Linked DNA regions of Homo sapiens. The protein of the gene in region 3 purifies or fractionates together with the protein of the main gene of each other region. This does not show direct contact. Each region holds a gene or a part of one and is shown on either strand. Other genes may lie near its edges.

Region 1 (3,500 bases), on a different chromosome or scaffold from region 3:
GCGGGTGGCTGCCGTCCTGGGCCTGCGCGGTGTTCAGCCCTGACGCCGCCATGTACGTGGCTCCGATGGTCTTGATCTTCTCGATGCTGCTGTAGTCCGGCTTGCTTAGGAGCTCGTCAAAGTCCCCGATGAGCTCGTTGAGGACCCGGTAGCACTCCTTGCCGCCCTCGTAGTTCTCCTCGTAGAACTCGCTGAAGTTGACGATGCTGGCGAAGATCACCCCTCCGCTGTCATGGTTCTTGGAGTAGGTCTGGGACACCTTCAGCTGCTCAGCCACGTGGTAGGGGATGATGTTCCTCAGCAGCCAGTCTGCCTGGTCCCGCATGCTCTGGATCTTGGTGCGGTGAAGATCCGCTTCCACGTCTCCGTGGTAGTGGAGGCGGTAGCTGACTTCAAATTCGCGATTCAGGAACCAGACCAACAAGAGCAGGAGAAAGAAGACGAGAACCACCTCCTGGCCGATGAGGCTGGCGGGCCGCCGGAGGTCACGCGGCACCGAACTATTGCACGGGTTCCTCTCGGAACTGGAGAGCAAAGACACGGGAAAGGGAGAGGTTACTGCTCGGCGCTTCCAAGCTCAGAACAGCCCCGCTAGCTACGCAAAGCTTTGTTGAGTCCAGGCCTTCAACAACCTGAAGCTGTCAAGCTGCCCATTCCTGGTTTGGGCTGGCTGAAGGTATGGAGGGATAAAGACTAACTTTTGAAACTGATTGATTTCATTTTGTTAAATAGAGGTGGGGTCTCACTGTGTTGCCCAGGCTGGTCTTGCACTCCTGGGCTCAAGCAATTTTCCTGCCTTGGCCTCCCAAAGTGCTGGAATTACAGGCGTGAGCTGCTGTGCCCAGCCCTGTAACTAACATCTTTAGTAAGTGCTTGGTAATCGTTTTTCTTTTCTTTTTCTTTTTCTTTTTTTTTAGAAGTCTTTAGCTTCTTTCAAAAATCTTTTCTTTTCTCTCTCTCCTTTGTTTTTTTAGAGACATGGTTGTTGTCCAGGCTGGAGTGCAATGGCACAATCATGGCTCACTGCAGCCTTAAACTCCTGGGCTCAAACGATCCTCCTGCCCAGCCTCCTAAGTAGCTGGGATTACACGCATGTACCACCACACCTAGCTAATTAAAAAATTTTTTTTTTGAAGAGACAGGGTCTTGCTGGTTGCCAAGGCTGGTCTTAAACTCGTAACTTCAAGCCATCCTCCCACCTTGGCCTTCCAAAGTGCTGGGATTACAGGCTTGAACTGTGCTTGGCCTAACATCTTTTTTTTTTTTTTTTTTTAAGATTGAGTCTTGCTCTGTTGCCCAGGCTAGAGTGCAGTGGTGCGATCTTGGCTCACTGCACCCTCTGCTTCCTGAGTTCAAGTGATCCTCCTGCCTCAGCCTCCTGAATAGCTGGGACTATAGGTGTGTGCCACCATGCCTGGCTAATTTTTGTATTTTTAGTAGAGACAGGGTTTCATCATGTTGGCCAGGCTGGTCTCAAACTCCTGATCTCAAAGTGATCAGCTTGCCTTAAAGTGCTGGGATTACAGGTGTGAGCCACTGCACCCGGCTTTTTGCTGAATGAACTTTTTGAAAGTAAGTTGCTGACATGGCACTTCAGCTCTAAATATTTCAGCATGTATCTCCTAAGAATAAGGATATTTCCCTATGTAACTACAATATCATCATCATACCCAAGAAATTTAACATTCTCTGATATATTTGGTTCTTAGATTTCTTTTTTTTTGAGACGGAGTTTTGCTCTTGTTGCTGGTGAGATCTTGGCTCACTACAACCTCCGCCTCCCGGGTTCAAGTGATTCTCCTGCCTCAGCCTCCCCAGTAGCTGGGTTCACAGACATGTGCCACCACACCCAGCTAATTTTGTATTTTTAGTAGAGACGGGGTTTCTCCATGTTGGTCAGGCTTGTCTCAAACTCCCGACCTCAGGTGATCCGCCCACCTCAGCCTCCCAAAGTGCTGGGATTACAGGTGTGAGCCACCGCGCCTGGCCTTGGTTCTTAGATTTCTAATCCAATAAACTTATCATTTTACAAATAGCTTTTATGAGTTCTATACTCTCTACCTGTATAAAAAAGTTTGACAAGACGCCATCTCCCCTGATTCTGGGTTAGTTCTTTTTGCCGAAATCACTCAGGACAATGCTAACATCTGAACCAGTGCCATTATTTTCTCATGGCTGTGCAGTGTTCCAGCACTCGGAAATTCTGTAATTTAGCCAGATTCCCCCTGATGGAACTGGGCCCGAGTCTGTCTTTTCTTACCACAAACAGTGTCACAGGGAATATTCCCCTACCCCTATCTTTGTGCGTATGGAAGTGCTGAGTCATTTTAAATATTGCACATTTAGAATTTCCTTAGAAATTTCCAAATTGCCCTTCTAAACAAGGCTGAACCAGTTTCTGCTTTTTTTTTTCTTTTTTTTGAGAAGGAGTCTCGCTTTGTTGCCCAGGTTAAAGTGCAGTGGCGTGATCTCGCCTCACCACAAACTCCGCCTCCTGGGTTCAAGCAATTCTCCTGCTTCAGCCTTCTGTGTAGCTCGGACTACAGGTGCACGCCACCATGCCCAGATTATTTTTGTACTTTTACTAGAGACAGGTTGGTCTCAAACTCGTGACCTCGTGATCCACCCGCCTCGGCCTCCCAAAGTGCTGGGATCACAGGCGTGAGCCACCGCGCCCAGTCTCTGCTCCCTTTGATAACTGAGCCTGCTTTCAGCGGGGCTGTCTCCACTTCAGTGGCACTGATGGAGACAGCCATGGTCAGGGGGCTGCAGATGAGTGGTGAGTAGCACAATTTCTTTTTTTCTTTTTCTTTTTTCTTTTTTGAGACAGAGTCTCACTCTCTAGCCCGGGCTGGCATGCAGTGGTGTGATCTCAGCTCACTGCAACCTCCACCTCCTGGGCTCAACGATTCTTGCGGCCCAGCCTCCTGAGTAGTGTGCGCCACCAGGCCCAGCTAATTTTTGTATTTTTTTTTTGGTAGAAACGGGGTTTCACCATGTTGGCTGGGCTGGTCTCAAACTCCTGACCTAAAGTGATCTGCCCGCCTCGACCTCCCAAAGTGCTGGGATTACAGGTGTGAGCCACCACACCTGGCTGAGTAGCACAATTTCTTAAAGTTTGTTTGAAATATATATATATATATATATATATATATATATATATATATGTATTTTTTTTTTTTTTTAAGAAGAGACAGGGTCTGTCTCTGTCATCCAAGCTGGACTGCAGTGGTGCGATCCTAGCTCACTGCAGCTTTGACCTCCCAGGCTAAAGCGATCCTCCCGCCTCAGCCTCCAGATTAGCTGGGACTACAGGCACACACCACCACACCTGGCTAATTTTTTGAACTTTTTGTAGAGATGAGGTCTTACTATGTTGCCCAGGCTGGTCTCAAACTCCTGGGTTCAAACTGTTCTGCTTCTGCCTCCCCAGTGTGCTGGAATACATTTTTTCCCATTTAAAAATACTACATACTCATCATAGAAAATGTAGAAAAAAA
Region 2 (3,500 bases), on a different chromosome or scaffold from region 3:
AACCTGACCTTGCAGACACCCACCATCCAGTCTCTGGCCTTCAAGCTGAGCTGTGACTTCTCTGGCCTCTCGCTGACCAGTGCCACTCTGAAGCGGGTGCCCCAGGTCAGAGGCTGCGGGTTGGGGGGTGTGGCCAGCTGCCCCGCCCTAGAAGTCCTCCAGGCATTTAAGGTCTGGACTTTCTTTAGGCTCCACTGTCTTCCTCCCCACACCCCACAGTCCAGGCTCTGCCCTAACTGGCAGTGAGTTGCCTCCTCTGTAAAATGGGGCTCATACTCGCTGTGTGAACTGTGGAAAGGGAGGTGCTTTATTGCCCCTGCAGGGCAGAATCTTCTTCCTGCTTTGGCTGGAGGCTGCCCGCTGCGGGAGGCGCTGTGGGAGAGGCCAGAAACCCTGGCTCCTTTTAGGACCCTGGGGTGATCAGCTGGATCCCTGGCAGGGGCTGGGGCTGGTGCTGGGGCTGGGTGCTGAGGTAGCTCCATCTTCAGGGGTTCAGTGGGTCAGGTAAACATCCAAAACTCAGGAACAGCATGGAGGGAAGGCCTGGGATCTTGGGAAGTTTGGGAGGAGATGCAGCCTGGGGGGAGAAGGTTCTGTGGGTGGAAACCCCAAGGAAGGTTTCACGGGGAGTGGGAGGCAGTGAAGGTGTTGGGGTCAGGTCTCCAGGTCCTGGTTGCCAAACAGCCTGTTTGCGACCCTCTGCAGGCAGGAGGTCAGCATGCCCGGGGTCAGCACGCCATGCAGTTCCCCGCCGAGCTGACCCGGGACGCCTGCAAGACCCGCCCCAGGGAGCTGCGGCTCATCTGTATCTACTTCTCCAACACCCACTTTTTCAAGGTCAGTGTGATGGCGGGCCAAGGAGGGTGGGTGCCGGCCCCTTCTTGGGATCCACTGCAGGTGCCCATGTCACTGCCTGGCCTCTGGGTGACCAGCACTGAGTGAGACCAACCAGCCATCTGTGCAATCCAAGCCAGCAATTGTCCCTCTCTGGGCCTCAGTTTCCCTGCCAACTTTAGCAGAATGGTAGGAAGGTATAATTACAATCTGCAAATAAGACCTAAGAAACCTACGATGTGCCTGTCGGTAGGCGGGAGACAGACAAGAAGGCACTTATTATTCCCTGCCCTCAGATAACTCTCTGTCTTGATGCCTAGACTAAGACCTTACAGATTTTTTTTTTTTTTTTTGGCAGAGTCTCGCTCTGTTGCCCAGGCTGGAGTGCAGTGGCATGATCTCGGCTCACTGCAACCTCTGCCTCCTGGGTTCAAGCAATTCCCCTGCCTCAGCCTCCTGGGATTACAGGCGTGTGCCATCATGCCCAGCTAATTTTCGTATTTTTAGTAGAGACCGGGTTTAACCACGTTGGCCAGGCTGATCTTGAACTCCTGGCCTCAAGTGATCCGCCTGCCTTGGCCTCCCAAAATGCTAGGATTATAGGCGTGAGCCACTGAGCCTGGCCTGATCTTAGAGATTTAATGTCAGCAGAAGGTTGATTATAGCCATAGAGATCCAGAGTGATGGATGAGTCAGGGTGGGGTTGGGGCTCTTCCCAGTGGGCAGTCCAGGGGAGTTTCTGGGGAAGGTGCCTTTCAACCTTGGCTTTGAAAGTGAGTGAGGATAGTGGTGAGGTGGAGGGCGTGAGGCTGGAATGCATTAAACGAATGGGAGGTGGAGCAGGGGGTGGTGAGAGGACAGCTTTCCACAGGGCAGAAACAGCACATGCAAAGGCTGGGAGGCTGGGAAGGCTGGGAGGCTGGGAGGCTGAGAAAGCTTTCACGCTGCACACGTGAAAGTCTTGCTGCTTGTTCTCATCCAGGGAAGCGGAGCTCAGACCTTACCCAGGGCCTCCCCATTTCCCCTCCACTCAGCCCTTCTCCTGCTGCCCTTCCAGGATGAAAACAACTCATCTCTGCTGAATAACTACGTCCTGGGGGCCCAGCTGAGTCATGGGCACGTGAACAACCTCAGGGATCCTGTGAACATCAGCTTCTGGCACAACCAAAGCCTGGTACTGCTGGGGGCGCCCCCGTTTCCACTGCACCCCTGCCCCTCTGTGACTCTCCTGTTGAACACTGGTTTGACTAGACCCAAACCTGTGGAACCATCTTGGAAATCCATCACACTTTGAAAATTCCTGCTCAAGAAATAAGAGAGAGAGAAGTTTTTACTCATGCATTTGTCAGAATTCTTTCAGTTGCAAGTAAGAAAAGACCACTTCAAGCCAGCTTGAGCACAGAGGGAACTGATTGGCACACATCCATGAAATGTCTAGAGGTGATCCACCAGCTTCAGACATAGCTGGATCCAGGGATGGATCTGATGCCCTTGTGGCTCAGTCTCTCTCCGTCTCAGCAATGGTCTCCTGTCTTGGCTGTCCATTCTGTGGCATGATGGATGCTGGAGAGCCAGACTTCCTTTCCCTCTTCCCATCAGGCTCTTCCCCCGACTCCCCACCCACAACCTGCCCCAGTGCAGATCAGGGTCTCAGGATCTTAAAGGTTCAGCTGGGTCACACATGTCCATCCCTGCACCTGTCACTGTGCCCAGGGGGATGGAATGTGTGGATTGGCCAGGCCTGGGTCACACGGCCCAGGGACTGGGGTGAAGGAGTGAGCTCCTAGGGTAAGTGCAGATGCTGATCCTGGAACAGAGACAGGGCTGCTTGTTGGGGGTGGGGGCAGAGTGGGGTGGTTCACAAGCCTCAGTGCCTCCATTTCTGGTTCCTGGCATTCCTGAAAAGCCCGGAGCCTCTGCTTTCTGGCTTCATCTTCCCTTCAGCTTCACCAGGACTGCCCTGCACTCTAAATTTCACCATCATCCTTTCCTTTCAGCTCTGGGCTTTTGCCACTATGGTTCCCTCCACCTGGAATGCCCTTGCCCTACTCGTGTTGAAATCCAACACGTCCTCTAAGGGTTCAGGGCCCCCACCTCCCCTTCTCCCTTTGGGTCAGCTCTGCCTACCCTCCATGGTCTTCCGTGACTACCTGTGTCATTTCCTCCACTTCTCCACCCACGTGGCTTGGCATTAGGGTTGTCTGTGGATGAGTCTCCCCCAACCAGGCGTGGGTCTGAGCACATTGCTGTTCCCCATGGGGAGGAAGGGAAGGGATCAGCTGGTTATGGAGCGCCTACTGTATAAAAGGCCAGAGCTGGACACTCAAGATTCCGTGTTGCCCTTTGTTTTTCCACCATTGTTGTAACATGGGTACGAATGATCCTATTCTGTAGATGACTAAACTGAGGCTCAGAGCAACTTGGTGTCTTGCCTGGGTCACTCTGAGAGCCCACAGTGGAGGTGGGACAGGAATCTGAGACTGTCTGAAGCCAAAGGCCAGCCAGTGCCTGGTAAAATGTTGGCAAATGTGCAGTTGAGTCACCGTTGGCCCCCAGGACTCCCAGACACTGATCTGCAGCCTTTCCTCTGCACCCTATGACTGACCCAGCATCTCCACCCAGGAAGGCTACACCCTGACCTGTGTCTTCTGGAAGGAGGGAGCCAG
Region 3 (2,442 bases):
CCACCTACTCCCAAGAGCCTGACACCCATCCCTCTGCCCTCCACCTCTACCACTCCAGCATCCCATCCCTTCTCAATCTTTCCCCACAGCTGTCTACCTGTCCACCTGCAAGGATTCAAAGAAGGTACAGTGCTCCACCTCTCTGTATCTTTCCCTTGTCACTTTATCTCCTCATCCTATCTCAAAACCCATGGAGGGAGGCTGCTGGTGTGGTAGGCAGAACCTAGGCTTGGAATTCACACTGATCTGGGTTAAAACCTGGCACTATATCCTAACTGTAGGACTCTTTGAGCATGCTACTTAATCTATATGTTTCCTTGGGTGTAGGGATTTTAAAAAGTTACTTAGGCAGTGCTGTCCAATAGAAAGATAATGCAAGCCACATATGTAAATTTAAATACTCTAGTACTCACATTAAAAAAATAAGCAGAAACAGGTAAAATTAACTTAATAATATACCTTATTTAATCTAATAATTCTGGTCCCTTATCTGAAATGCTTGGGTCAGAAGTGTTTTTGGATGTTGGATTTTTTCAGACTTTGGAATATTTGCATATATTTAATATCTTTGGGATCAGACCCAAATCTAAACACAGAAATCATTTATGTTTCCTATACACCTTATACACATGGCCTGAAGATTTTTTTCCTTCTCTTTTTTTTTGAGACAGAGTCTCTGTCGCCCAGGCTGGGGTGCAATGGTGCGATCTCGGCTCACTGCAACCTCCACCTCCCAGGTTCAAGCGATTCTCCTGCCTTAGCCTCCCGAGTAGTTGGGATTACAGGCACCCACCACCACGCCTGGCTAATTTTTGTATTTTTAGTAGAGACGGGGTTTCACCATGTTGGTCAGGCTGGTCTCGAACTCCCGACCTCAGGTGATCCGCCCGCTGCCTTGGCCTCCCAAAGCGTTGGGATTACAGGTGTGAACCGCTGCACCCGACCACAATATTTTTAATAATATATGTGACCCATCACATGAGGGCAGCTGTGGGATTTTCCACTTGTGGCATCATGTTGGCACTAAAAAAATTTCAGGTTTTGGAACATTTCAGATTTTAGAGTTTTGGATCGGCGATGCTCAACCTGTACATCCAAAATATTATTGCAACATGTAAACAATATAAGAAATTACAGGCCGGGTGCGATGGCTCATGCCTGTAATCCCTGCACTTTGGGAGGCCGAGGCGGGAGGATCACCTGAGGTCAGGAGTTCAAGACCAGCTTAGCCAACATGATGAAACCCCATCTCTACTAAAAATACAAAAAATTAGCCAGATGTGACGGCACCTGTAATCCCAGCTACTCGGGAGACTGGGGCAGGAGAATCGCTTGAACCTGGGAGGCAGAGGTTGCAGTGAGCTGAGATCACACCATTGCACTCCAGCCTGGGTGACAAAAGGAAAACTTCGTCTCAACAACAAAAAAAAAAGAAAAAGAAATTACAGTCTTGGCCAGGTGCGTTGGTTCACGCCTGTAATCCTAGCACTTTGGGAGGCTGAGGAGGGCGGATCACCTGAGGTCAGGAGTTCAAGACCAGCCTGGCCAACATGGTGAAACCCCGTCTCTACTAAAAATACAGAAAAATTAGCCGGGCATGGTGGTGCACACCTGTAATCTCAGCTACTCAGGAGGCTGAGGCAGGAGAATTGCTTGAACCTGGGAGGTGGAGGTTGCAGTGAGCCGAGATCGCACCACTGCACTCCAGCCTGGGCAACAGAGTGAGGCTCTGTCTCAAAAAACAAAACAAAACAAAACAAAACAAATTAGCTGGGCATGGTGGCACACAGCTATAGTCCCAGCTACTTGGGGAGCTGTGGCAGAAGGATCGCTTGAATCTGGGAGGGTGAGGCTGCAATGAGCTAAGGTTGTCCCACTGTACTCCAGCCTGGGTGACAAAGTGAGACCCTGTCTCAAAAAAAAAAAAAAAAAAAGAAAGAAAAGAAAATAAATTGCAGCCCTTTTCTCACCTTAAGTATTCAAACACAGGTGTTTATTTTAAATAGTCAGCACATCTCAATTCGGACTAGCCACATATCAAATGCTCAATAGCCTAATGTGGGTGGTGGCTGTCATATTGGACAGCGGAGCCTGAGAGGACTTTTAGGAGGATTAAGGAAGACAGTGTATCTCCTTAAGAAGATGCAGGAGATACAGCACTCAGCAGTGTCTGGAGGGCAGAAAATATTAGCCTCATCCTTCTCCCATCATCTGTGCCCATGATAGTTTATATGTCTCTAAACTGACCATGTACACCTCAACTGCCTTTTAATATCCTGAATTCCTCACCACCTTCCTCTCTTCCAGAAAGCAGAGTGAGGGCACTCACTGCCATCCTGTGGAAGCCACCATCATCTCTGGCCCAAGCTTCTGTAGTAGCTCCCTAAAATAATACCCTATCATCTGCTCCTAATCCCTCCAATCTCTCTCCACTGAGTGGCT
Region 4 (2,400 bases), on a different chromosome or scaffold from region 3:
TATAGAAATTTTACATAAAGAAAAAAGTTCCTTAGAGCTCCAGCTTCATTTTTCTTTCTCTCTCGTTTTTTTCATACATACACAAACATAGCAAAAAGTCACAGTATAACAACGATTCTGTATTTGAGCACATATATTTTAACCAACAATCAGAGCCCACGGAAGAGCTCATGGACATTTTCTAATCCAGTATTACAAATAAACGATTTTATTTATCTTTTTGAGACAGAGTTTCACTCTGTCACCCACGCTGGAATGCAGTGGTGTGATCTCGGCTCACTGCAACCTCCACCCCCTGGGGTTCAGGTGATTCTCCTGCCTCAACCTCCCAAGTAGCTGGGATTACAGGCACGTGCCACCACACCTGGGTAATTTTTGTATTTTTAGTAGAGATGGGGTTTCGCCATATTGGCCAGGCTGGTCTCAAACTCCTGACCTCAAGTGATCTGCCCGCCTCAGCCTCTCAAAGTGCTAGGATCACAGGAATGAACCACCATGTGCAGCATAAACTACTTTAGAATGTGCCTCTAGCTGAATGGGGGAGAAGATTGAAAAGAAAATAAAAAAAAAATTAATCTGACTATTCAGTTGGGTCACTGCACTAGGAAAAAGTAGGATGGTATAGTCCAATAGAAAGAGGTAAGCAGATTCCAACATTCTATGGGATAACATCTTTTAGATAGCCTAGAATGGTACTGCATATTGAATAACAAAAATGTGCTAGAGGAAATACAGGAAGGCCAGGAACCTACTCTACCATTCCATCAGATTTCTGAATTTCCTAGTCAAATTTTACCTTTTCTGGAGTCAGGCATTTCATATTGGTTGACTTTAATATGTGCTGTAAGTAGTCATTTAAATCAACCATGTTGGTGTTAACTGTCACCTGTAGAGAGGAAAAAAAAGTCAAGGAGATCATAAATCTTACTATGAGAAAGCTGTGAATCACCAGTATGTCATATTAAAAACTTGTTCCAACTGTTTAGGTTGGAAAGAGTAGACACCAAGAAACTAAATAACATCTATAAAATCCAACAAGCTGTAGGTTGGTATCAGTACTTCCCAATAGAGATAACTTCACAGAGATTCAATATGAAGCATATAGAATATTTCTTTTTTTTTTTGAGACAGGGTCTCACTCTGTCACCCAGGCTAGAGTGCAGTGCGTCATTTCAGCTCACTGCAGCCTCAACCTCCCATGTTCAAGTGATCCTCCCACCTCAGTCTCCGGAGTAGCTGGGACTACCACACCGGGCTAATTTTTGTATTTTTTGTAGAGATGGAGTTTCACCATTTTGCTCAGGCTGGTCTAGAACTCCTGAGCACGAGCAATCTGCCTGCCTCAGCCTCCCAAAGTGCTGGGATTACAGGCACGAGCTACCGTGCCCAGCCTCATATAGAATATTTCTAATAAAAGTCAAGGCTCAAAGGGACAAAGTTCCTCAACAGACCATGAACTTTGTAAAGCCTTTTTCGGGCACTAGATTAAATGGTAAGCTCTTGGTCATACATAGAAGGGATGGAATATTACCTATAATGTCTAAACCTATCAGATTGGCTATAGAACTGCTACTCTAATCAATTTATAACAGCAAATTACCAAACTACTTACATGATTTTTAGTTAAGGCTAATTTGCAAGAACAGATACTGAAAGACTATTTGCTTTTCATGTTAAACACTTTTTAGCGAGATTAATTTTATTAGCAGACTCCTCAACAGCAGGCAAAAGGAAGAAAGATAAAGGAATATGAGAAAATCTCCCAAGGACTAACTTTGTTTTCCCATTCAAATTCGGCCCACATCTGACGGAATTCTGCATCAGTGCAAGTTGCAGGCTGGATATAGTCCATGATGTCGATGTGAATATCACTGAGAACCACACAATTTCTGTCACTTGCTGCTCCAGAGACATCATAAACTGCAATTACATATACAAAAAGATTCGCAATCACTGGGGCAAACTTGAATTTAAAAAATCTTAATATCCAAATATCCAAAGAACTACACTATTAACAATAAGATTGTTTATATAATACTTATTATGTACAGAGCTCTATTCTACATGCTTTATAAATATTACTGGTTTAATACTCCCATCAATTCTGATAGTATTATTATTTTCCATCTTACATATGAGGAAATGAAAGCAGAGAAGTTAAGTAAGTTGTTCCAGATCACACAACTGATAAGTGGTGGGGATAGGATTCGAACTCAGGCACACTTTGTTTTTTGTGGTTAAACAAATAATTCAATTCAGTGAGTACTTACATAGCAGTTGCAGCATACTAGGCACTGCAGCAGATATACAAGTGGACGATGTTCCCATAGGAGGTACTTAACTAATACTTTTGAATAAATATTGCTGACCCATACTACTTAATGATACAAGATTAGTCAT

The links.
Region 1: the proteins of TAPBP (region 3) and ADCY9 purify together in Homo sapiens (co-immunoprecipitation; one large-scale study listed by IntAct). This does not show direct contact.
Region 2: the proteins of TAPBP (region 3) and ADGRG5 purify together in Homo sapiens (co-immunoprecipitation; one large-scale study listed by IntAct). This does not show direct contact.
Region 4: the proteins of TAPBP (region 3) and COPB1 purify together in Homo sapiens (affinity purification with western blotting, with the first as the bait; one study listed by BioGRID). This does not show direct contact.

What each region holds. Positions count from the first base shown.
Region 1 is NC_000016.10:3,966,443-3,969,942, forward strand, and holds part of ADCY9 (adenylate cyclase type 9), read right to left. Parts: intron 525-3,500; coding exon 1-524. UniProt on the Homo sapiens protein: Adenylyl cyclase that catalyzes the formation of the signaling molecule cAMP in response to activation of G protein-coupled receptors.
Region 2 is NC_000016.10:57,563,143-57,566,642, forward strand, and holds part of ADGRG5 (adhesion G-protein coupled receptor G5 isoform 1 precursor), read left to right. Parts: coding exon 1-105; intron 106-705; coding exon 706-837; intron 838-1,891; coding exon 1,892-2,008; intron 2,009-2,146; exon of another isoform or gene 2,147-3,456; coding exon 3,457-3,500. UniProt on the Homo sapiens protein: Orphan adhesion G-protein coupled receptor (aGPCR). Ligand binding causes a conformation change that triggers signaling via guanine nucleotide-binding proteins (G proteins) and modulates the activity of downstream effectors, such as adenylate cyclase.
Region 3 is NC_000006.12:33,301,637-33,304,078, reverse strand, and holds part of TAPBP (tapasin isoform 1 precursor), read left to right. Parts: intron 1-89; coding exon 90-124; coding exon of another isoform or gene 125-304; exon of another isoform or gene 305-473; intron 474-2,307; coding exon 2,308-2,319; coding exon of another isoform or gene 2,320-2,387; 3' UTR 2,388-2,442. UniProt on the Homo sapiens protein: Involved in the association of MHC class I with transporter associated with antigen processing (TAP) and in the assembly of MHC class I with peptide (peptide loading).
Region 4 is NC_000011.10:14,459,412-14,461,811, forward strand, and holds part of COPB1 (coatomer subunit beta), read right to left. Parts: intron 1,921-2,400; coding exon 1,775-1,920; intron 887-1,774; coding exon 797-886; intron 1-796. UniProt on the Homo sapiens protein: The coatomer is a cytosolic protein complex that binds to dilysine motifs and reversibly associates with Golgi non-clathrin-coated vesicles, which further mediate biosynthetic protein transport from the ER, via the Golgi up to the trans Golgi network.